Linked DNA regions of Homo sapiens: region 2 is linked to region 1. Evidence: fine-mapped expression QTL. A gene starts in region 1. The other region holds a variant in brackets. All regions are shown on one strand. Distances are from middle to middle.

Evidence for each region. PIP is the estimated chance that this variant, and not a neighbour inherited with it, causes the effect.
Region 2: its variant is fine-mapped to the expression of PPM1G in whole blood (TOPMed, PIP 0.95).

The regions. Positions count from the first base shown.
Region 1 is chr2:27,403,984-27,415,154 of GRCh38, forward strand. PPM1G (protein phosphatase, Mg2+/Mn2+ dependent 1G) reads right to left here and starts at 5,608. Exons shown (of 10, transcript NM_177983.3): 1 at 5,320-5,608. The coding sequence starts at 5,439. RefSeq lists silencers at 5,089-5,168, 5,189-5,238, 5,309-5,498, 5,589-5,778.
Region 2 is chr2:27,508,313-27,518,855 of GRCh38, forward strand. GCKR (glucokinase regulator) reads left to right here. Exons shown (of 19, transcript NM_001486.4): 17 at 10,476-10,543. Among named protein-coding and RNA genes, the nearest start is that of GCKR, 17 kb to the left of the region's middle. The variant A/G (reference allele first, on the strand shown) is at 6,002.

The DNA of each region.
Region 1 (11,171 bases):
ATGTTTTTCAACCTTCAATGCCCTAAGGTAGAACCCCATAGCATACTTGTGATATTTCTTTTTATATTTTTTCCATTAATTTAATGACTGAAACAAATATGCAGGTATTTTAAGAATTTTCTGCTCAATACTATCTTTATAGTCAATTCTAGATGACCCCTTGACCACTAATAAGCCAGCTTCTACACAGCAATAAATAGCCAGCCTCCTCAAAATTATACTATAGATATTGACACTGCCTTTAATAAAAGGAAAATATGATTTATAGCACAAAAAATTCCTGGCCGGGCACGGTAGCTCACATCTGTAATCCCAGCACTTTGGGAGGCCGAGGCAGGTGGATCACAACGTCAGGAGTCTTGAGACCAGCCTGGCCAACATAGTGAAATCCTGTCTCCACTAAAAATACAAAAAAAAATTAGCTGGCCTGGTGGCAGACTCCTGTAATCCCAGCTATTTGGAAGGCTGAGGCAGGAGAATCACTTGAACCCAAGAGGCGGAAGTTTCAGTGAGCCGAGATCAAGCCACTACACTCCAGCCCGGGTGACAATGCGAGACTCCGTTTCAAAAAAAAAAAAAATTCCTAACTCTCCATAGAAAGCAGTTTTGTCACTTCCAGAGAACCTCACAACCAAATATTAAATGTACTCTTGTCCCCTTAAGACTACATCAACTGATGGGCCAGGCATGGTGGCTCACGCCTGTAATGCCAGCACTTTGGGAGGCCGAGGCGGGCGGATTAAGAGGTCAGGAGTTGGAGACCAACCCGGCCAACATAGTGAAACCCTGTCTCTATTGAAAATACAAAAAATTAGCCGGGCATGGTGGCAGGCGCCTGTAATCCCAGCTACTCGGGAAGCTGAGGCAGGAGAATCGCTTGAACTCAGGAGGCAGAGGTTGCAGTGAGCCAAGATCATGCCATTATACTCCAGCCTGGGCAACAGTGCAAGACTCCGTCTCGGAGAAAAAAAAAAAAAAAAAAGACTACATCAACTGAATCTATTTTCAGATTTGACTTCTTATTTAGCCAACAAAAACTCAAGGGCCTTACCTTATAATTTTTCAGGCACCCCTCCACAACCTACCTCATTTTTTTTTTTTTTTTTTTAAGATGGAGTCTCACCCTGTCGCCCAGGCTGGAGTGCAGTGGTGCGATCTCGGCTCACTGCAACCTCCGCCTCCCAGGTTCAAGCGATTCTCCTGCCTCAGCCTCCGGAGTAGCTGGGACTACAGGCGTGCGCCACCATGCCCAGCTAATTCTTGTATTTTAGAAGAGACAGGGTTTCACCATATTGGCCAGAATGATCTCGGTCTCTTGATCTCGTGATCCGCCCACCTCGGCCTCCCAAAGTGCTGGGATTACAGGCATGAGCCACCGTGCCCAGTGCCTACCTCTTAATCCCAAAGTACATACCTCATCCACTTTTTTCATGGAGAAAGGAGGAAGGAGGAGAACATCAACTGTGGTGGTTTTTTTGTTTGTTTTTTTGAGACGGAGTCTGTCACCCTGGCTAGAGTGCAGCGGTGAGATCTCGGCTCACTGGCCTTCCTATTCAAGCAATTCTCTGGCCTCTGGCTAATTTTTGTATTTTCAGTAGAGACGGGGTTTCACCATGTTGACTAGGCTGGTCTCGAACTGACCTCAGGTGATCTGCCCCCCTCGGCCTCCCAAACTGCTGGGATTACAGGCGTTAAGCCACCACGACTGGCCTGTGGTATTTTGATTACCTTTTCTCAAAACACCCTGGTTGCTGGGCATGGTGGCTCACAGCATTTTGGGAGGCAGAGGCGGGCCGATCACCTGAGGTCAGAAGTTCGAGACCAGCCTGACCAACATGGAGAGACCCCCATCTCTACTAAAAATACAAAATTAGCCAGGCGTGGTGGCACATGCCTGTAATCCCAGCTACTCAGGAGGCTGAGGCAGGAGAATCGCTTGAACCCGGGAGGCGGAGGTTGCAGTGAGCCGAGATCATGCCATTGTACTCCAGCCTGGGCAACAAGATAGAAACTCCGTCTCAAAAACAAAACAAAACAAAACAAACAACAACAACACCCTGGTCACACAGGAAGAGAAGCTTGAAACAGGCAGAAAGTAAAAATGCCAGCTATTGATGATTGCCATTTTTGTCTCAAGAGTCCTCTCTACGGCTAAATCTATCCATCAGTCAGCATGTCAACAACCTTTAGTGGTATGATAACCTTACCTCAAATGAAGCATTAGGACCAAGCAAATAGGGTAAATAAACTTTATTAATTTTTGGATTAAGCCCTAAAGCTTCAGAGGAATGGGAGTACTTTATATTTTCTGGAAAGATAAGATTCAGGGAAGAGGCTAGAACTCATAGTTATTTTCTTGCAATAGCAAAGAAACTATGCTACACTTTGAAGAGAAAAAAAGCCAGAAGGAACACTATCAATGAAGCAGAATAGGATCCCAAACAATACTCTTCAAGAGGATTTGATTAGGCATATTTAACTATTGATTAGGCATATTTATTCAAACAAGGGCAACTTCAGAAACAGCACATTAGCAAGATTTTAATACCCTAAGCAGTTATCTCTCAGGAGGAAGATTAGGATGTAAGGAATAGTCTAGTAAGATCTCTACACACTAAACCGTCCCTGACAAAAAAAATCATTTTCTAATTGAGGAGAAACCAAAAATAAAGGGAAATGCCCTACAGAGAAGCAGCAAATAGTATGGAATCACTGGGCAAACCAACGTGAAACACTGAGTAGCCAAGCAACTCAATCCGTAAGTAAAAGTAGAAAGAAGGGTACCAAAGAAATGAAAAAACAACAGCAGAGAAGTGAAAAATATTAAATGAGAAACCTGGAAGAAACGTTTTACTGCGAGATGGAATATTCACCTCAAATCTCACAACGTTAACAGAAAATGCCATGGAAATGGAACTTCTTGACTACCTACTTTACAAAAAGACTTTCCTACGAAACTATACCCAGATTTATTTATTTATTCTTTTTTTTTTTTTTTTTGAGACAGTGTCTCACTCTGTCGCCCAGGCTGGAGTACAGTGGCACGATCTTGGCTCACTGCAACCTCCGCCTCTGGGATTCAAGCGATTCTCCTGCCTCAGCCTTCCAAGTAGCTATGATTATAGGCACGCACCACCACATTCAGCTAATTTTTTGTATTTTAATAAAGACGGGGTTTCTTCATGTTGTCCAGGCTGGTCTCGAACTCCTAAGCTCAGGCAATCCGCCCGCCGCAGCCTCCCAAAGTGTTAGGATTACAGGCATGAGCCACCATGCCTGGCCTATTCATTTATTTTTTGAGACAGCGTCTCGCTCTGTCACCCAGATTGGAGTGCAGAGGGGCGATCTTGGCTCAATGAAGGCTCTGCCTCTCAGGCTCAAAGTGATTTTCTATCTCAGCCTCCCAAGTAACTGGGACTACAGGTGGGTGCCACCATGCCCAGCTAATTTTTTTGTATTTTTTGTAGAGACAGGGTTTTTGCCATGTTGCCCAGGCTGGTCTCGAACTCCTGAGCTCAGGTGATCTGCCTGCCTCGGCCTCCCAAAATGCTGGGATTACAGACGTGAGCCACTGCGCCCAGCCTAGATATTTCTAATAGACAATTACATCTACCAAATAGTTATACTGTGTATGGTGGTGAAATATGAATGCTATGCTTCAGTTTGACATAGATGATTAACAATGTCTAGTGTCTTCAACGATCTGATCCTACAAATTCTTTCCACCAAAACAGTGTCCTAACCTTTCTGGGCCTCAATTTCTTAGCTATAAAATGTGGGAGCCGCAGGGTGTGGTGGTTCATGCCTGTAATCCTAGCACTTTGGGAGACCGAGGCAGGCAGATCACCTAAGTCAGGAGTTCAACACCAGCCTGACCCACATGAAGAAACCCTGTCTCTACTAAAAATACAAAATAAGCCAGGCGTGGTGGCACATGCCTGTAATCCCAACTACTAGGGAGGCTGAGGCAGGAGAATTGCTCGAACCTGGGAGGCGGAGGTTGCGGTGAGCCGAGATCGCGCCATTGCATTCCAGCCTGGGCAACAAGAGCGAAATTCTGTCTCAAAAAAAAAAAAAGGGAGCCAAAGCAGATGAGATGAACTATAGGATACACTCCAATCCTGAAATTTTATACCTAATTATAAAATTGTTATTAAGGTCAGTTATGAATATAAAATTTGAATCGGAAAACAAAACATTTAAGTTCATACTGTCATTCCAGAGCTAACCACAGGGAGGAGCGAGGGATCTGAAACAATTCCCAAGGGAGACAGTATTTCGCTGTTACCTGAAGCCCACCCGGTAGGTGGAGAAACCCTCAATACCAGACAGAGTATTTCCCTGGCCCTTTTGCCTAGACTTCAGAATGCTCTTCACAAAGCCACGGTTAACCCGTCTTCCTCCCTTTCCTCCCTACCGCAGTTTTCCCTCTTCTCTTTTGTAGTTTCACATCAAGTTTTACCTAATACTACTACTTTCCCCCCAATATTTTTCTTTTCCCCTTTTGTCCAGAGTAAAATTTTCTAGAAAAGCCCTTTGTAGGTAGGTTGTGATGAAAAAAATTGATGAAATGACTTACAATCAAAGAAACTATAAACTACAATTACAGGCAAATGAGAATTACTGATTAAGTTTTAGAGAAATCCTAAGAGAGAAAGAAAACGAAGCATAATAAAAAGGAAAACCTAGGGACTGACATAATTCAAGTTTTCCGAAGTTAGTAAAAGGCCCTGAAAAGAGTGCAAATGAGTGACAACTCCTGGAGGTCGGGTCCAGCCTCTGAAATTAACATGCAAGAGCCCAAGGCCAGGCAACCAAAATGTGAAACAGACTCTGCCCGGGGTTCCTTTCACTGTCAAACTCCTAGCCAAAAGAGGCTTCCCACATCAGATATTTTAAATATTAAAATTTAAAAAGTTATTCACATCTATTCACCTCTCCCTTGAAAAACAAATGAATAAATAGCCCCTATTTGCGTCTTTACTCCCACACTAAACCTCACACCGTTGATGAGCCTGGAGGGCTAGGTTGGCACGAGAGGATGGCGCCAAAGCTCGGGGAGAGGGCGGTCAGTGGGCGGAAGGTGCCTCTTCCCACATGGCCGAGCCCTCGCCGCCACTGGCCACCGGCACACGGTCCCCAAGCATCGGGAGCTCCCTCTCGGCCCTGACCCCGCGGTCTCTGTCGCCCCGCAAACGGCCGCTGCGGCCGCAGGCTCCCAATTGGGACCCTTCCCAGGGGAGGACCCCATCCCCCGCTCTCTTTCTCCGTCAGATTCCCGCCCCGCAGCGGCCAGCCTATGGGCCCCTGCCTCCTCACCTCCATGGAGACGCGCCAGCCTTGCATGGCGGAGAAGCCGTAGGGCAGCGGCAGGCGCGGGGCGCCGACCCCGTCCCCGGAGCACTTCACCGTGTTGGGCTGGGAGAGGTAGGCACCCATGGCGGCGGCTGGCCGGCGGCCTCAGGTGCAGGAAAGCTGGGCGCGACCCGTGCCGGAGCCGAAGCCCCGGGGGTGCGCGCGGCAGGAGCAGGCCCCGCGGCGCGACCGACGCAAGGTGCCGGTGAAAGGCGCGAGGCCGGCCAGGAGGCGGTAACGGGACGGGAGCTGTGAGGGAGCGGAAGCGGAAACGGCGCCGCTCCAGACCCCGCCCGGCCTGCGCGGCGGGGCCAGGCGCTGCGGGCAGTCATTTCCTTAGCAACTCGCCCCGCCCGCAGGGACAACGGCCCGCCCAACGGCCGCTCCCGCGAGACTAGCGCGACCACGCCCACCAACGGCCGCCGTCCTACTCCGCTTCCTCGCGCAGGTGGCAGGTCGCCTCTGGCAGAACCTCTTCCTTCGTTCCCAGTCCCCAGCCTCTTGGCGTTTTGTCTGACGCCTCTTTTGTGTCGGACTCGACGCTTTCAGCCCGTCCTCCAGTGTTTTCATCCCCCTCTCCCCAACGTTGCACTCTCAGACTCCGCAAACCCCGCCCGATTTGGTTCAATTAAAGTTGACCAGTATTTGTTCCGAGCTTAGGAAGTACTTGGCCAGGCCATGCGAGGCCTATATGAGAAGAATGTGAGTCTTTTCTGAAAGCGAAGACCTCGATCTGTGATATAATTCGAGTTAATACAATGTAGAAATGTTTGGTACAGCCTATTCTGGGTGGGAAAAGCTCAAGGATGGGAGGAGGAGCTGTTTCTTGGAGGATTGAAAGGATGTAGGCTCTCAGAGAGGATGCCTCTGGATTGCATTATGCCACAGGAAAAGGGAATAATGTTATAAGGTTTGGAGGAGTGAGGGAAGAATGTGAACTGCATTTGGGGAGGATTTCTGAGGAAGCTGGCTGGACTCGGAGAATGATTGTAAGTGGTAATATTAACTAGCTAGCTTGATAAAAAGAAGCGCCAAGATGAGTGACTTGGACTTCATTGTCGTCCTGGTGTAACCTTTGGCATCGTTTGTCTAGTCTTTGTATGCAGTGTACATTGGAGGGAGAGAGTCTGGGGCACTGTTGTGTTGTTGTTTTTTGTTTGTTTTTGAGACAGAGTCTCGCTCTGTCGCCCAGGCTACAAGCTCCGCCTCCCGGGTTCACGCCATTCTCCTGCCTCAGCCTCCCGAGTAGCTGGGACTACAGGCGCCCGCCACCACGCCTGGCTAATTTTTTGTATTTTTAGTAGAGACGAGGTTTCACCGTGTTAGCCAGGATGGTCTCCATCTCCTGACCTCGTGATCCGCCCGCCTCGGCCTCCCAAAGTGTTGGGATTACAGGCGTGAGCCACCGCACCCCGCCTACTATTGTTTTTTTTTTAAGACAGAGTTTCGCTCTTGTTGCCCAGGCTGCAGTGCAGTGGCGCTATCTTGGCTCACTGCAACCTCCGCCTCCCAGGTTCAAGCGATTCTCCTGCCTCAGCCTCCCGAGTAGCTAGGATTCCACGCCTGGCTAATTTTTGTATTTTTAGTAGAGACGGGGTTTCACCATGTTGGCCAGGCTGGTCTCGAACTCCTGACCTCGTGATCTACCCGCCTCAGCCTCCCAAAGTGCTGGGATTACAGGCGTGAGCCACCGCGCCTGGCCTGGGGCACTGCTACTAGTTAGAGAGCTCTTACTCTAAGCAGGAGATGAGAAGAGCTGGGAGTAAGGTGGTACCACGCAGGGTGGCAATGGGAATCCAGATGAAAGGACAAATTAGACAATAACAAATAAGACAGATTTGGTAATAAATTGCATTCAAGGGATGGAGAGAAAAGGAGAAATTCTCCAAACTATGACAAAATTGATTCTTTTCAGCCGGGCACAGTGGCTCACACTTGTAATCCCAGCACTTTGGGAGGCCAAGGGGGGGTGGTGGATCACTTGAGGCCAGAAGTTCGAGACCAGCCTGGCCAACATGTGAAACCCGTCTCTACTAAAAATACAAAAATTAGCCAGGCGTAGTGGTGCGCTCCTGTAATCCCAGCTACTTGGGAGGCTAAGGCAGGCGAATAGCTTGAACCCCAGAGGCGGAGGTTGCAGTGAACCAAGATGGCGCCACTGCACTCCACCCTGGGTGACAGAGCAACTCCGTCTCAAAAAAAAAAAAAAGATTCTTTAAAAAGATAAAACTAATCATGGCTTCTTCATGCTCTTCCGATAGTCCAAATTCCTTATAGTTTACAAGACCCTTCATGCTAATCATCCAGATTCACGTATGCCTCTCTTTAACTCTCCATTTCTCCTACAACTCTGCTTCAGCAATGTCTTTGGGTGCATCTAAAGCCATGCTTTCTCTTACACTTTTACCCATGGAGCACACCTCTCCACACCCCTCTTGACCATCACTTTCTCCAGGAAATCTCTACTATCACTATACTAGTTTGGGTCCACACTTGTTTGTCTTTCCTGATAGAATATAAGCCTTTATGAAGGCAGAAGTTCCATTAAACTTACCATTGTGTTTTCCAGCATCCCTTGCAAAGTTGTATGTGCTGAATAATATTTAAATATTTGTTGAATGAATGAATAACACCAAGATTTTGACTCTGCATAACAAAATGTGGTGGAGCCATTAACAGAAAAAGGTGCAGTTTGAGGGGATGCTAGTTTTGGGGGGAAAACAGTGGTTCAGTTTAGGGTGACAACTAATATAAAAACATTGAAAATATTAGATTGGAGTTAAGCCATGAAAGTGGAAAAGATGTTAATTAGGCTTGCAGGTTGCCAGGAACCTAGATGAGATCTCTGACCAAAGCAGTGTAGAGGGAGCATATAAAATTACTCAGCCTTGGTTGCAGTGAGCTGAGATGGTGTCACTGCACTCCAGCCTGGGCGACAGAGTGAGACCCTGTCTCAAAAAACAAACAAATGAACAAAACAGCAACAACAAAAATTACTCAGCCTCTTCTTTCTTCTCCTTCTGCTCCTCCTCTTCCTCCTTCTTCTAAGAAATGAGGTCTTGCTATGTTGCTGAGGCTGGTCTTGAACTTCTGGGCTCAAGCAATCCTTCCACTTTAGCCTCCCAAATAGCCAGGACCACAGACATGTGCCACTATGCCCGCCTTCTTTTTTTTCTTTCTTTTTTTTTTTCTTTTTGGACTTTGTTTTTTCCTAAGAATGGAATGTGACATTGTTTAAAGAGCATGAATTTTGCCACATATTACCTATGAGATCTTTCACAAGTTACTTATTCCCTCTTAGGCTAAGTTCATCTGCAAGACAGACATACAGCATCTACTCTTCAAGACTGCTTTAAGGATAAGAGGAATTGAATGTAAAGTGCTGAGTTATCCATAAATGTTGTATATTATTCAACAAAAGACTGCTGTTTAAGTGTCCATACATACACGCTAAATATGGAATGGAAGCCACATTTAATTGTGTTCACAAAAAATAGGAGGTGGCCTGAAAATAAATGGGAAAAAAACAGACAAGAAAAAAAGTGGAAAAGAAAATATAACTCGAGGCTGGGCACAGTGGCTCACGCCCGTAATCCCAGCACTTTGGGAGGCTGAGGCAGGCGGATCACTTAAGGTCAATAGTCCGAGACCAGCCTGGCCAACATGGTGAAACCCTCTCTCTACTAAAAATACTATATAAACACACACACGCACACACACAATATGACTCAAGGAAAAAGTAACGCACTGGGAGAGCAATAATGTTACAGAGAGGGGAGATAGATACTAAGGGGGATCATGGAAAGAGGTGAAAAAGGAGAAAGAGTATGAAGATTATCCCCTCACCATCCTATTCCCCTCAAAGTCACTACAGTATATTTCCAGTGACGTAAAGGTTTCATGCTTTGACTAGAAGGGAGAAAGAAAAAAAATTTTAAAAAAAGGCCGGGCGCAGTGGCTCACGCCTGTAATCCCAGCACTTTGGGAGGCCGAGGCGGGTGGATCACGAGGTCAGGAGATCGAGACCATCCTGGCTAACATGGTGAAGCCCTGTCTCTACTAAAAAATACAAAAAATTAGCCGGGCGTGATGGTGGGCGCCTGTAGTCCCAGCTATTCGGGAGGCTGAGGCAGGAGAATGGCATGAACCCAGGAGGCGGAGCTTGCAGTGAGCCGAGATCGCGCCACTGTACTCCAGCCTGGGTGACAGAGCAAGACTCTGTCTAAAAAAAAAAAAAAAAAAAAAAAAAACACCCAAAACGCAATACTATATTCATAGATCGATTGATAATGCTGAGTCTGTCTTTAAAGTATGAGCTGCAAAAATCTGGCTAATCAGACATGGTAATAGAGCCAGCTCCTGAACATGTACTTGAGGTGTTAGTCCACATGAAAAAAGGGTTTTTATGGCAGGCATGGTGGCTCACACATGTAATCCCAGCACTTTGAGAGACTGAGGTGGGTGGATCACCTGAGGTCAAGAGTTCAAGACCAGCTTGACCAGTATGGTGAAACCCCGTCTGGCCGGGCACGGTGGTTCACGCCTGTAATCCCGGCACTTTGGGAGGCTGAGGCGGGCAGATCACGAGGTCAGGAGTTCGAGATCAGCCTGACCAACGTGGTGAAACCCCGTCTCTACTAAAAATACAAAAATCAGCTGGGCGTGGTGACACACACCTGTAATCCCAGCTACTTGGGAGGTTGGGGCAGGAGAATCGCTTCAACCCAGGAGGCAGTGGTTGCAGTGAGCTGAGATCGTGCCATGGCACTCCAGCCTGGGCAACAGAGCGAGACTTTGTCTCAGAAAAAAAAAAGAAACCCTGTCTCTACTAGAACTACAAAATTAGCAGGGTATGGTGGCAACATGCCTGTAATTCCAGCTACTTGGGAGGCTGAGGCAGGAGAATCACTTGAATCTGGGAGGCAGAAGTTGCAGTGAGCCGAGATTGCGCCACTGCACTCCAGTCTGGGTGACAGTGCAAAACTCCGTCTCAAAAAAAAAAAAAAAAAAGAAATTATGAACCCTGAGGCATGTAATTATAGATCTCTGGGAATGTTGCCAGCCTGGGAGACATTGCCTTAAAGGTTAAATGTGGATGGGCGTGGTGGCTCACACTTGTAACCCCAGCACTTTGGAAGGCTGAGGCGGCCGGATCATCTGAGGTCAGGAGTTCGACACCAGCCTGGCCAATATGGTGAAACTCTGCCTCTACTAAAAATACAAAAATTAGGTGGGCGTGGAGGCAGGCGCCTGTAATCCCAGCTACTTGGGAGGCTGAGGCAGGAGAATCGCTTGAACCTGGGAGGCGGAGGTTGCAGTGAGCTGAGATCCCGCCATTACACTCCAGCCTGGGCCACAGAGCAAGACTCCATCTCAAAAAAATATATATATATATATTAAATGCTCTAACTTTAGAGTATAATGTGACATCAGTTCAATTGTAAATTTGAATGTGAACTGAAGATCACTCAAAAAAGTGTTAATCTAGATCATCCAAAATATGCCAATATGCTTGTATTTATATTAAATATTATAAATTTATGTTGTCTTCCTATGTTACCCAGGTTGGCCTCAAACTCCTGGGCTCAGACAATCCTCCCACCTCAGCCTCCTGAGTAGGTGCATGCTGCTGTGCCTGGATCTCATTGTTTTTGACCCTTTCTTCATATACATGTGATTCATATACATCAATATTATACTATTCATGAAATGATACCTTTAAAAACTAAGCAGTTTTGATACCATATTCCTTCTTGGTTGTGATTAAAGGTGAAAGATTGATCCAGAGAGGAAAAAAATAATCTCAGGGACAAGAT
Region 2 (10,543 bases), 100 kb after region 1:
ATCAAAAAACCCAAGGCTGTAGGGCAGAAAGTTTGGAGACCTCTCTGACCCTCACAAAGCCAGCTGGGCAAGGTCATGGGTTACCAGGTTACTAGTCAGAATTCCCAAGGCAATGAACTACTGGGCTCAGCTGTCTCTAGGAATATGCAAAAAGTTGCGGGATAGGCCTCCAGTCACCTGACAGATGTTCATTTGTCCTTTGGGACAGGTTAATTATTTTTACTTTGAGACAGAGTCTCACTCTGTCGCCCAGGCTGGAGTGCAGTGGTGCAATCTTGGCTCACTGCAACCTCTGCCTCTTGGGTTCAAGTGATTCTCGTGCCTCAAGTAGCTGGGACTACAGGTGTGCACCACCATGCCCGGCTACTGTTTGTATTTTTAGTAGAGATAGGGTTTCCTCATGTTGGCCAGGCTGGTCTCGAACTCCTGACCTCAAGTGATCTGCCTGCCTCGACCTCCCAAAGTACTGGGATTACAGGTGTAAGCCGCTGCGCCTGGCTGGGACAGGTTAATTCTTGATACCAAAGTCATCATCATTATCCAAAAGCTTTTACCACACCTTTTTTTTTTTTGCAAGTTTACTATGCTGAATTCATTGCAGATAACTTTATGTGCATATAGTCCCTGCTTGCCAATGAATTATAATCCAGCACAAATACTGATAATAATTACAGAAATAATAATCAGTGTGTGTGCTCTTTGCAATTTAGAGCTTTGTGTGGGCATTGGGAGCTCTGGATGCCGGTCTAGCTCTACAGTGTGGCCCAAGAAAGCAAGCAATTTTACATCTCTGGTTCTCAGTTTTCTCATACACCACCTGCCCACCCTCCATGGGCAGAATCAGGGCCCTGAAGGGTTGCTCTGGAGAGATGTGGTCTCTTATTCGTTATTCAAACCATGTCTGTCAGAAGTTTCCTGGCTTGACCAGACACAGCTGAAACACTGACTTACCTGGACTCAGAACTCGTATAGAAGCGGAAGTTTCTCTGCCCCTGAACAGGGAATCCACTCTCCTTCCAATGTCTTTCATTCTTTTTATTTTTTAAAGACAAAGTCTCACTCTGTGGCCCAGACTAAAGTGCAGTGGTGCCATCTCAGCTCACTGCAACCTCCGCCTCCCCTGCTCAACTGATCCTCCCACCTCAGCTTCTCAAGTAGGTAGGACCACAGGCACTCACCACCATGACTGGCTAATTTTTGTATTTTTTTTGTAGAGATCGGGTTTCTCCACATTGCCCAGGCTGTTTGCCAACTCCTAGACTCAAGTGATCCACCCGCCTTAGCCTCCCAAAGTGCTGAGATTGCAGGCGTGAGCCACTACGCCTAGCCAAAACACTGTATTTTTAAAGAAAAATGTTCATTTTAACAGCCATACATTTTTTATAGATACATTTTTTATAGTAAAGACGTTACAAATTACAGAAATGCAAAAAAGAAAAAATCACTCCAAATCTACCATCTTCAAAAAAAAAAAAAAAACACTCTAACAAATTTTGGAGAATGTCCTTTTAAATTTCTATTATATGCATATATAAATATATTTGTACAAAAGTAAGACCATACTTGATATGCTGTTTTAAAGTTGCTTTATGAACATCTTTCTGTACTAATAGATCACCATCATTTTCAAAAATTATTATTATTATTATTTATTTTTATCATGCCGGGACATGTTCTCATCTGATAGATCACTACTATCATTTTTTTTTTTTTTAAGATGGAGTCTCGCTCTGTCACCCAGACTGGAGTGCAGTGGCGCGATCTCCGCTCACTGCAAGCTCTGTCTCCCAGGTTCACGCCATTCTCCTGCCTCAGCCTCCTGAGCAGCTGGGACTACAGGTGCCCGCCACCACGCCTGGCTAATTTTTTGTATTTTTTAGTAGAGACGGGGTTTCACCGTGTTAGCCAGGATGGTCTCGATCTTCTGAACTTGTGATCCACCCGCCTCAGCCTCCCAAAGTGCTGCGATTACAGGCGTGAGCCACCACGCCCGGCCACTACTATCATTTTTAGTGTCAATGTAATATTCCACTGTATAGATGTACCATAAATTGTTTAACTCCGATTATCAGACACAGAGACAACTTCAATATTATGGTTTTTATTAAAGTGCTGCACTGAACATCCTTATAAACACATCTTTTAGGCATTTGACTTGTTTCACCAGGATAAACCCCAAAAGCGAAATCACTGGGTCAAAGGGGATGTAAAATTTTGAAGCTTTTTGATACATACAGCCAAACTGCCCTCCAAAGAGGTTTATAAATAAAGCGTGAAGTTGCTTGTTCCCTTACACCCTTATACATACTGGATAGCATCCTTATAAAAAAATCTTTGCTAATCAGTAAAGCAACAAAAGGGCATTTTAGTGTTATTTTAATTTATATTTCTTTAATTATTGTGTAGGTGGACTACTTAAAAATATATATTGGCCATTTGATACTTTTTTTTTGTCTTTCATGTACTGCTTCTTGTCTTTTGGGTCTATTTACCCATTCTTTCTTTGGGGGGTATTTTTTTTTCTTATTTGTAAGAAGGGGTGTGTATAGCAAAAACAGTAGCCCTTTTTTTCTTTTCTATATTTTTCCCAGCTTAATATTTTCTTTTGTTTTTACGTTTTTTATGTAGAGACATTTTATTTAAAATGTTACATAGTCAAATCTATCAATCTTTTCCTTTGTGTTTTTTGCCTTTTGGTTGATGTTGGTTTTATTTATTTGTTTATTTATTTGTGAGACAGAGTCTCGCTCTGTGGCCCAGGCTGGAGTACAGTGGTGTGATCTTGGCTCATTGCAACCTCTGCCTCCCGGGTTCGAGCGATTCTCCTGCCTCAGCCTCCTGAGTAGCTGGGATTACAGGCACACGCCTCTATGCCCTGCTACTTTTTTCATTTTTTGTAGAGACAGGGTTTCACCATGTTGGCCGGGCTGGTCTCGAACTTCGGACCTCAGGTAATACACCTGCCTTGGCCTCTCGAAGTGCTGGGATTACAGGAGTGAGCCACTGCACTCAGCCTGGTTTTATCTTTCTAAATGAATTGGAATTGTTTGAAATAAAGAGGCTTTGTTTGGGCTGGTCAATCTTTAGCTATAGAAATATTTTTGACAGACGCCGTGGCTCACGCCTGTAATCCCAGCACTTTGGGATGCCAAGGCGGGCAGGTCACCTGAGGTCAAGAGTTCGAGACCACCCTGGCCAACATGGTGAAACCCTGTCTCTACTAAAAATACAAAAAAATTACCTGAGCATGGTAGTGGGTGCCTGTAATCCCAGCTAGTCGGGAGGCTGAGGCAGGAGAAGCCGAGGTTGCAGTAAGCTGAGAACGCACCATTGCACTCCAGCCAGGGCAACAAGAGTGAAACTCTGTCTCAAAAAAAAATAATAATAAAAATTAAAAATAAAAAAAAGAAATATTTTCTATGTAAACTGTTCCTACACTTTTATTTTGTTTTGTTTTGTTTTCTTTTTTGCCTTCCGAAGTGACAGTGGATACACTTTTATTTTGATAAAAATCAAACCTACAGAAAAATACGAAAATGGTGCAAGGAACACCCATATACTTTTCCCTAGATTCATCAATTATTAACATTTTGCCATATTTGCTTCATCTCTTTCTTTTCCCCTGAATTATATGAAAGATAATTGGAGCCAGGTACGGTGGCTCATGCCTGTAATCCCAGCACTTTGGGAGGCCAAGGCAGGCAGATCACAAGGTCAGGAGTTCGAGACCAGCCTGATCAACATGGTGAAACCTGATCTCTACTAAAAATACAAAAATTAGCCAGGCGTGGTGGCTTGGACCTGTAATCACAACTACTCAGGAGGCTGAGGCAGAAGAATCGCTTGAACCTGGGAGGCAGAGGTTGCAGTGAGCTGAGATCATACCACTGCACTGCAGCCTGGGCGACACAAGACTCCATCTCAAAAAAAAAAAAAAAAAAAAAGCCGGGCGTGGTGGCTCACGCCTACAATCCCAGTACTTTGGGAGGCTGAGGTGGGTGGATCACAAGGTCAAGAGTTCAAGACCAGCCTGGCCAACATGGTGAAACCCATCTCTACTAAAAATACAAAAATTAGCCGGGCATGGTGGCACATGCTCATAGTCCCAGCTACTCGGGAGGCTGAGGCAGGAGGATCACTTGAACCTGGGAGGTGGAGGTTGCAGTGAACCGAGATCATGCCACTGCACTCCAGCCTGGGTGACAGAGTGAGACTCCATCTCAAAAAAAAAAAAAAAAGAAGATAATTGGAGATGCCTGATATGTTATACTAATTACTTTGGTATGTGTCCTCTAAGAACAAGGGCATTCACCTACATAATTACAATATACTTTTCCACTCAGGAAAATGACAATTAATATACTATTATCTATTATCTAGACCATATTCAAATTTCCCCAAATATTCCTGTATTGTTTTTATTTCCCAGATCCAGGATCCAATCAAGGATAATGCACTGCATTCAGTTATCAGGTCTTTTGGGTTTTCCTTTACTCCAGATGAGTTTCTCAGTTGTTCTTTATCTCTTTGATGACATTGATATCTTAGAAGTAAGTCCAGGTCAGTTGTTTTCCAGAATATGCCTCACTTTGGATTTGCCTGATTGTTTCGTCATGATATTCAGGTTAAATTTTTTGGCAGGAGTACTGCATAGGGGAAGTTGTGCCCTTATCAGTGTATCACATCGGGAGGTACCTGATGTCAGTTTGCCCCTTTATTGGTGATGCTACATTCCATCGTTTAGCTAGGATGGTGTCTGTTAGATTTCTCTGTATCCTATTCCTCAGCAATCTTTCACCCAATGGTTTTAGCATCCACTGATGATTCTTGGTTGAATTAATTATTACTATGGTAGTTTTTCAATGGTGATTTTCTATTTCTATCCCTTCCATCTATATTCAGTAGTTGGCATTCTTCTGTAAAGAAAATCTCTCTCATCCAGGTGCGGTGGCTCACATCTGTAATCCCAGCACTTTGGGAGGCTGAGGCAGGTGGATCACTTGAGGCCAGCAGTTTGAGACCAGCCTGGCCAGCATAGCAAAACCCCATCTCTACTAAAATACAAAAATTAGCCGGGTGTGGTGGTGTGCACCTGTAGTCCCAGATACTCAGGAGGCTGAGTCGGAGAATTGTTTGAACCAGGAGGTAGAGGTTGCAGTGAGCTGAGATCGTGCCATTGCACTCCAGCCTGGGTGATAGAGCGAGACTCCGTCACAAAAAAAAAAAAAAGAAAGAAAGAAAATCTTTTTCTTCTCTCCCCGTCCTATCTACCCTATCTATCTTTGTTTTTTTAGTGTCAATATGGACTCATGAATTTTTTGTTGTTGTTAAATGTGTTTTAATCCATTCTTATTATTCATTATTTATTTTAATGCTCAAAATGAGAGTTCATTCAAGCTGGTTCCTGTGTCCTTGTGACATATCCACATCAGTATTTGAACACTCTTTGTTGTGTTTCTTTTTGTAAAATAATAATAACCTTCTTATGCAAAAGGTAGCATCTTTTTTATATCTTGCATTTTTTGCTTAAGATATTCTGAAAATCACTGCAGTGCAGTTTATAGATCTCTTCCTCATTATTACTTATTATTTGCATTTGTGTGTGTGTGTGTGTGTGTGTGTGTGTGTGTGTGTGTAACAATAGTTTGCCCTGTCAATCTCCTATGCAGGAACACAAAACCACTGACCCAGGCTCACCTATACTTTCCCTGATCCAGCCCTGGAGTCAGTCATTTTTCTGAGGAGACCTGATCTTGTTAGTGGGTTCTAGTATTTAGAAACCCAAATGCTAGGTATGTTCACTGCTACTGGTGTGTCTTTGCCTCTAAGCCCTATCAGTAGAAAGAATAAGGGTGTGTGTATGTGTGTGTTTATGTATATATACATGCATACATACATATACATATGTATGTTTGTTTACATACAGATGAATGTGTCTGCGTATATATATATATACACACACATACATCTATATATACATCTATATAAATACTGTATATAT[A/G]TTCCCACTCTTCTTCCTCTTTCCCTTAGTGATAATGTTGATTTCCAACATCATCAATATATCTGCCGTCTCATTCCATTTCCATTCATGCCTGTAGGGAATTAGTTTAATTAGTTACTGGCTTATCCTCCTATGTTTCTTTTTGGAGAAAAGTGTGTGTGTACATATAAGTTTGCACTTCCTATACAAAAGGCAGTCTACTATACTCTTTTGTGCTTTAAGAAGATATTCTGAAAATCACTCCATATTGGATCATAGAGCTCTTCCTCATTAATTTTTACCTTTGTGTGTTTCCACATATGTAATAGTTTACTCAGGCAATCTCCTATGTAGGACATATAGGTTTCCCATATTTTGCTATGATCAATCATGATGTAATGAATGTACATGTATTTTTATAATGTCAGAAGAGTATCTTTGGGATAAATTCCTAGAAGTATTAGAGCTGGGTCAAACGGTACATACATATGCCATTTTGTTAGATATTGCAAAATTTCCTTCCATAGGGTTTACTATTTTGCTTTCCATACCAGCAATATACAAGAATGCTGCTCTCCTACAGCCTCTTGGAGAGTTTTGTGAAGTTTTTGGATTTTGTCAACCTGATAGATTAGAAATGCCACTTCTGTGTAGTTTTCATTTATTTATTATTATTTTATTACTATTATTATTATTGTTTTTTGAGATGGAGTCTTGCTCTGTCACCCAGGCTGGAGTGCAGTGATGTGATCTCAGCTCACTGCAACCTCTGCCTCCCAGGTTCAAGCAATTCTTCTGCCTCAGCCTCCCAAGTAGCTGGGATTACAGGTGCCCAGCACCATGCACAGTTAATTTTTGCATTTATAGTGGAGACAGGGTTTCACCATGTTGGCCAGGCTGGTCTCGAACTCCTGACCTCAGGTGATCTGCCCATGTCGGCCTCCCAAAGTGCTGATTACAGGCGTGAGCCACCACGCCCAGCCTTATTTTATTATTTTTTTGAGACAGGGTCTCATTCTGTCACCTAGGCTGGAGTGCTGTGGTGTGATCATGGCTCACTGCAGCCTCAACTTCCTGGGCTCTGGTGATCATCCCACCTCAGCCTCCCGAGTGACTGGGACTACAGGCGCTTGCCACCATGCCTAGCTAATTTTGTTTCACCATGTTGGCCAGGGGTGTCACCATGTTGGCCAGGCTGGTCTTAAACTCCTGACCTCAAGTGATCCACTCGCCTCTGCCTCCCAAAGCACTGGGATTATAGGCGTGGTCCAGAAAGCTTTTTCTAACATCTAAATTGTAAAGGAATTCCATCCATGTTTTCTGCTAGTAGAGATGGTTTCTTTTTTTCTTTTTTAAACACTTAGATCTTTAATTTATTGGGAGTTTATTCTTGTGTATGGGGTAAGGCATGAATCCAATTATTTATTTTTCCAAGTGATTATCCAATTGTTCGTATATATATATATATATATATTTTTTTTTTTTTTTTGAGACAGAATCTCACTCTGTCACCCACGCTGGTGTGCAGTGATGTGATCAGATTTCACTGCAACCTCAAACTCCTGGGCTGAAGCAATCATCCCACCTCAGCCTCCCAAGTAGCTGGGACTACAGGCACATGCCACCATGCCTGGCTAATTAAACAAAATTTTTTTTTTTTTTTTTGTAGAGACAGGTTCTTGCTATGTTGCACACGCTGGTCTCAAATCCCTGGCCTCAAGCAATCCTCCTGTCCCAGCCTCCCAAAGAGCTGGGGTTACTGGGGTGAGCCACCGTGCCTGGCTCCAATATAATTTTTTTAAGTTCATCTTTTCCTGAGTGATTTAGGATGCTATCTGTGTCACATACTCAATTTCTATGTGCATTGGTCTATTTATGGACTTTCTATTCTGTTCCACTGGTTTGTCTATTGATGTGCTGGTACCATATGTTTTAATTATGGAGGCGTTATGGTATGTTTGGTATCCAATAGGGTTTGTTCTTCATTCTTGTTTTTTTTTTTTTTTTTTTTTTTTTGAGATGGAGTCTCATTCTGTTGCCCAAGTTGGAGTTCAATGGTATGATCTCGGCTCACTGCAACCTCCGCCCCCCAGGTTCAAGTGATTCTCTTGCCTCAGCCTCCCAAGTAGCTGGGATTACAGGCACGCGCCACTACACCAGGCAAATTTTCTTTTGTATTTTTAGTAGAGATCAGGTTTCACCCTGTTGGCCAGGCTGGTCTCAAACTCCTGACTTCAAGTGATCCACTCACCTCAGCCTCCCAAAGTGCTGGGATTATAGGCGTGAGCCACTGTGCCCAGCCTATTCTTCTTTTTAAGGATTTTCCTGGCTATATCCAGGCCGATTTTTCCATGTGTACTTTAAAATGAATGTGTCGCACTCCAAATTTTGTAAAATTTAAAATATTTTTGTGTTAATGGTGTTAATGTTAATGGTATCAATGGTTAGTGGTATAACCTAGATCTAATTGACCTCTCTCCCAAAGTGCAGTCTGACACGCACCCTATAGCATCAGTACTGCATACTTACTGGCCAGTTTCATGCTGAAATTTCATGCTGTTCTTATATTTAGTGTCGTGGACATTCACTTATTAAAATGTTTTCAATATACCCTCTTCCAGGGTTTTGTGTGAACAGCTATTTCTAGAGTTCCAGAATAAAGAGGTAAAAGTAGCAGTAGCCTGTTTCCTCAGCCTGGCTAGGACCACGTGTATTAGTACCTTTTTTTTTTTTTTTTTTAATATGGAGTCTCATTCTGTCGCCAGGCTGGAGTGCAGTGGCGTGATCTAGGCTCACTGCAACCTCTGCCTCCTGGGTTCAAGTGATTCTCCTGCCTCAGCCTCCTAAGTAGCTCTGACTTACAGGTGCTTGCTACCATGCCTGGCTAATTTTTGTATTTTTAGTAGAGACGGGGTTTCACCATGTTAGCCAGGATGGTCTCAATCTCCTGACCTCATGATCCGCCCACCTTGGCCAGTACATTTTCATACTGCTCTAAAGAACTGCCCGAGACTGGGTGATTTATAAAGGAAAGAGGTTTAATTGACCCACAGTTCAGCATGGCTGGGGAGGCCTCAGGAAACTTACAATCATGGTGGAAGGTGAAGGGGAAGTAAGGCATCTTCTTCCCAAGGTGGCAGAAAGGAGAAGTGCCAAGTGAAGGGGGAACAGCCCCCTTATAAAACCATCAGATCTCATGAGAACTCACTATCCCAAGAACAGCATGGGGGAACGCCCCCTGCCCCCCATGATTCAATTACCTCCACCTGGTCTCTCTCTTGACACATGGGGATTATGGGGATTACAATTCAAGATGAGATTTGGGTGAGGACACAAAGCCTAACCATATCACCAGTTAATTAATCCCCTCAACACCTTTACTGGGCCCCAGTTTCCCTGCTAATGTGCCAATAGGTGTTATAAGTGCCCCAAGGTGGACAAGATATAAGGGCCAAAAACAAGGGGCAGTTTTATACTCGCGATACCACATGTTTGAACAATTTTTTAGTTTTCAACATGCCTTTACATAGGTTCTCTCATTCATCCAGGAGATATTTGTGGCAAAGTAGGAAATGCCCTCATCATTGAATCAGAAGACCGGGATTTAGGTCCTCATTCTCCATCTCGTTATCATATGAGCTTCTCCAAGTTAATTTACTTCTGACCTCTAGTTTCCTCATATGTAGAAATGAGGATAGGTAAACTTATTCTGTAGGGCTGTTAGAAAAATTAAATAGAATTCATTTTTCAACAAACATTTTTTTTTCCCCTGAGACATAGTCTCACTCTGTTGCCCAGGCTGGAGTGCAGTGGCACAATCTAGGCTCACTGCAACCTCCACCTCCCGGGTTCAAGTGATTCTTGTGCCTCAGCCCCCCGAGTAGCTGGGATTACAGGTGTATGCCACCACTCCTAGCTAATTTTTGTGTATTTAGTAGAGACAGCATTTCATCATGTTGGCTAGGCTTGTTGAGAACTCCTGACCTCAGGTGATCCCCCAACCTTGGCCTCCCAAAGTGGTGGGATTACAGGAGTGAGCCACTGTGCCCGGCCTCAACAAATGTATTGATCAGCAAATATGTGTCAGTCATGGTCTAAAAAACTGGGGCCCTGGAGCAGAATAAGTCACCATCTCTGCCCTTTCAAGAAGCCTGTGGTTTAGTGGAATGAATCCCACTCCTCCTGTCTGATACCCGGGGAGAAAAAGGAACAATTCAGCAGGATCAAAATTCTAATATGGAAGGACTCAGAGAACATGTCTGTCTACCTAGGGGTCAAAAACACAAATGGGTGAAGCTACCAGGTTTGCCTGAGACAATCCTGGTTTACATCTATTGCCCTAACATTTAAACGCTGGGCTGCTCAAACAAATCATGTTTGCATTTTGGTCCCTGGTTCTTGACAGTTGGTTTCCTGTCTGATAACAGGGCCCTGTTCACTCTGCTGCTTTTCTGTCCTCTAATTTTTGACACCCCCATGTGTCTGCCCTTTTCAGAAGTTCCAGCGTGAGCTAAGCACCAAATGGGTGCTGAATACAGTGAGTACAGGTGCTCATGTGCTTCT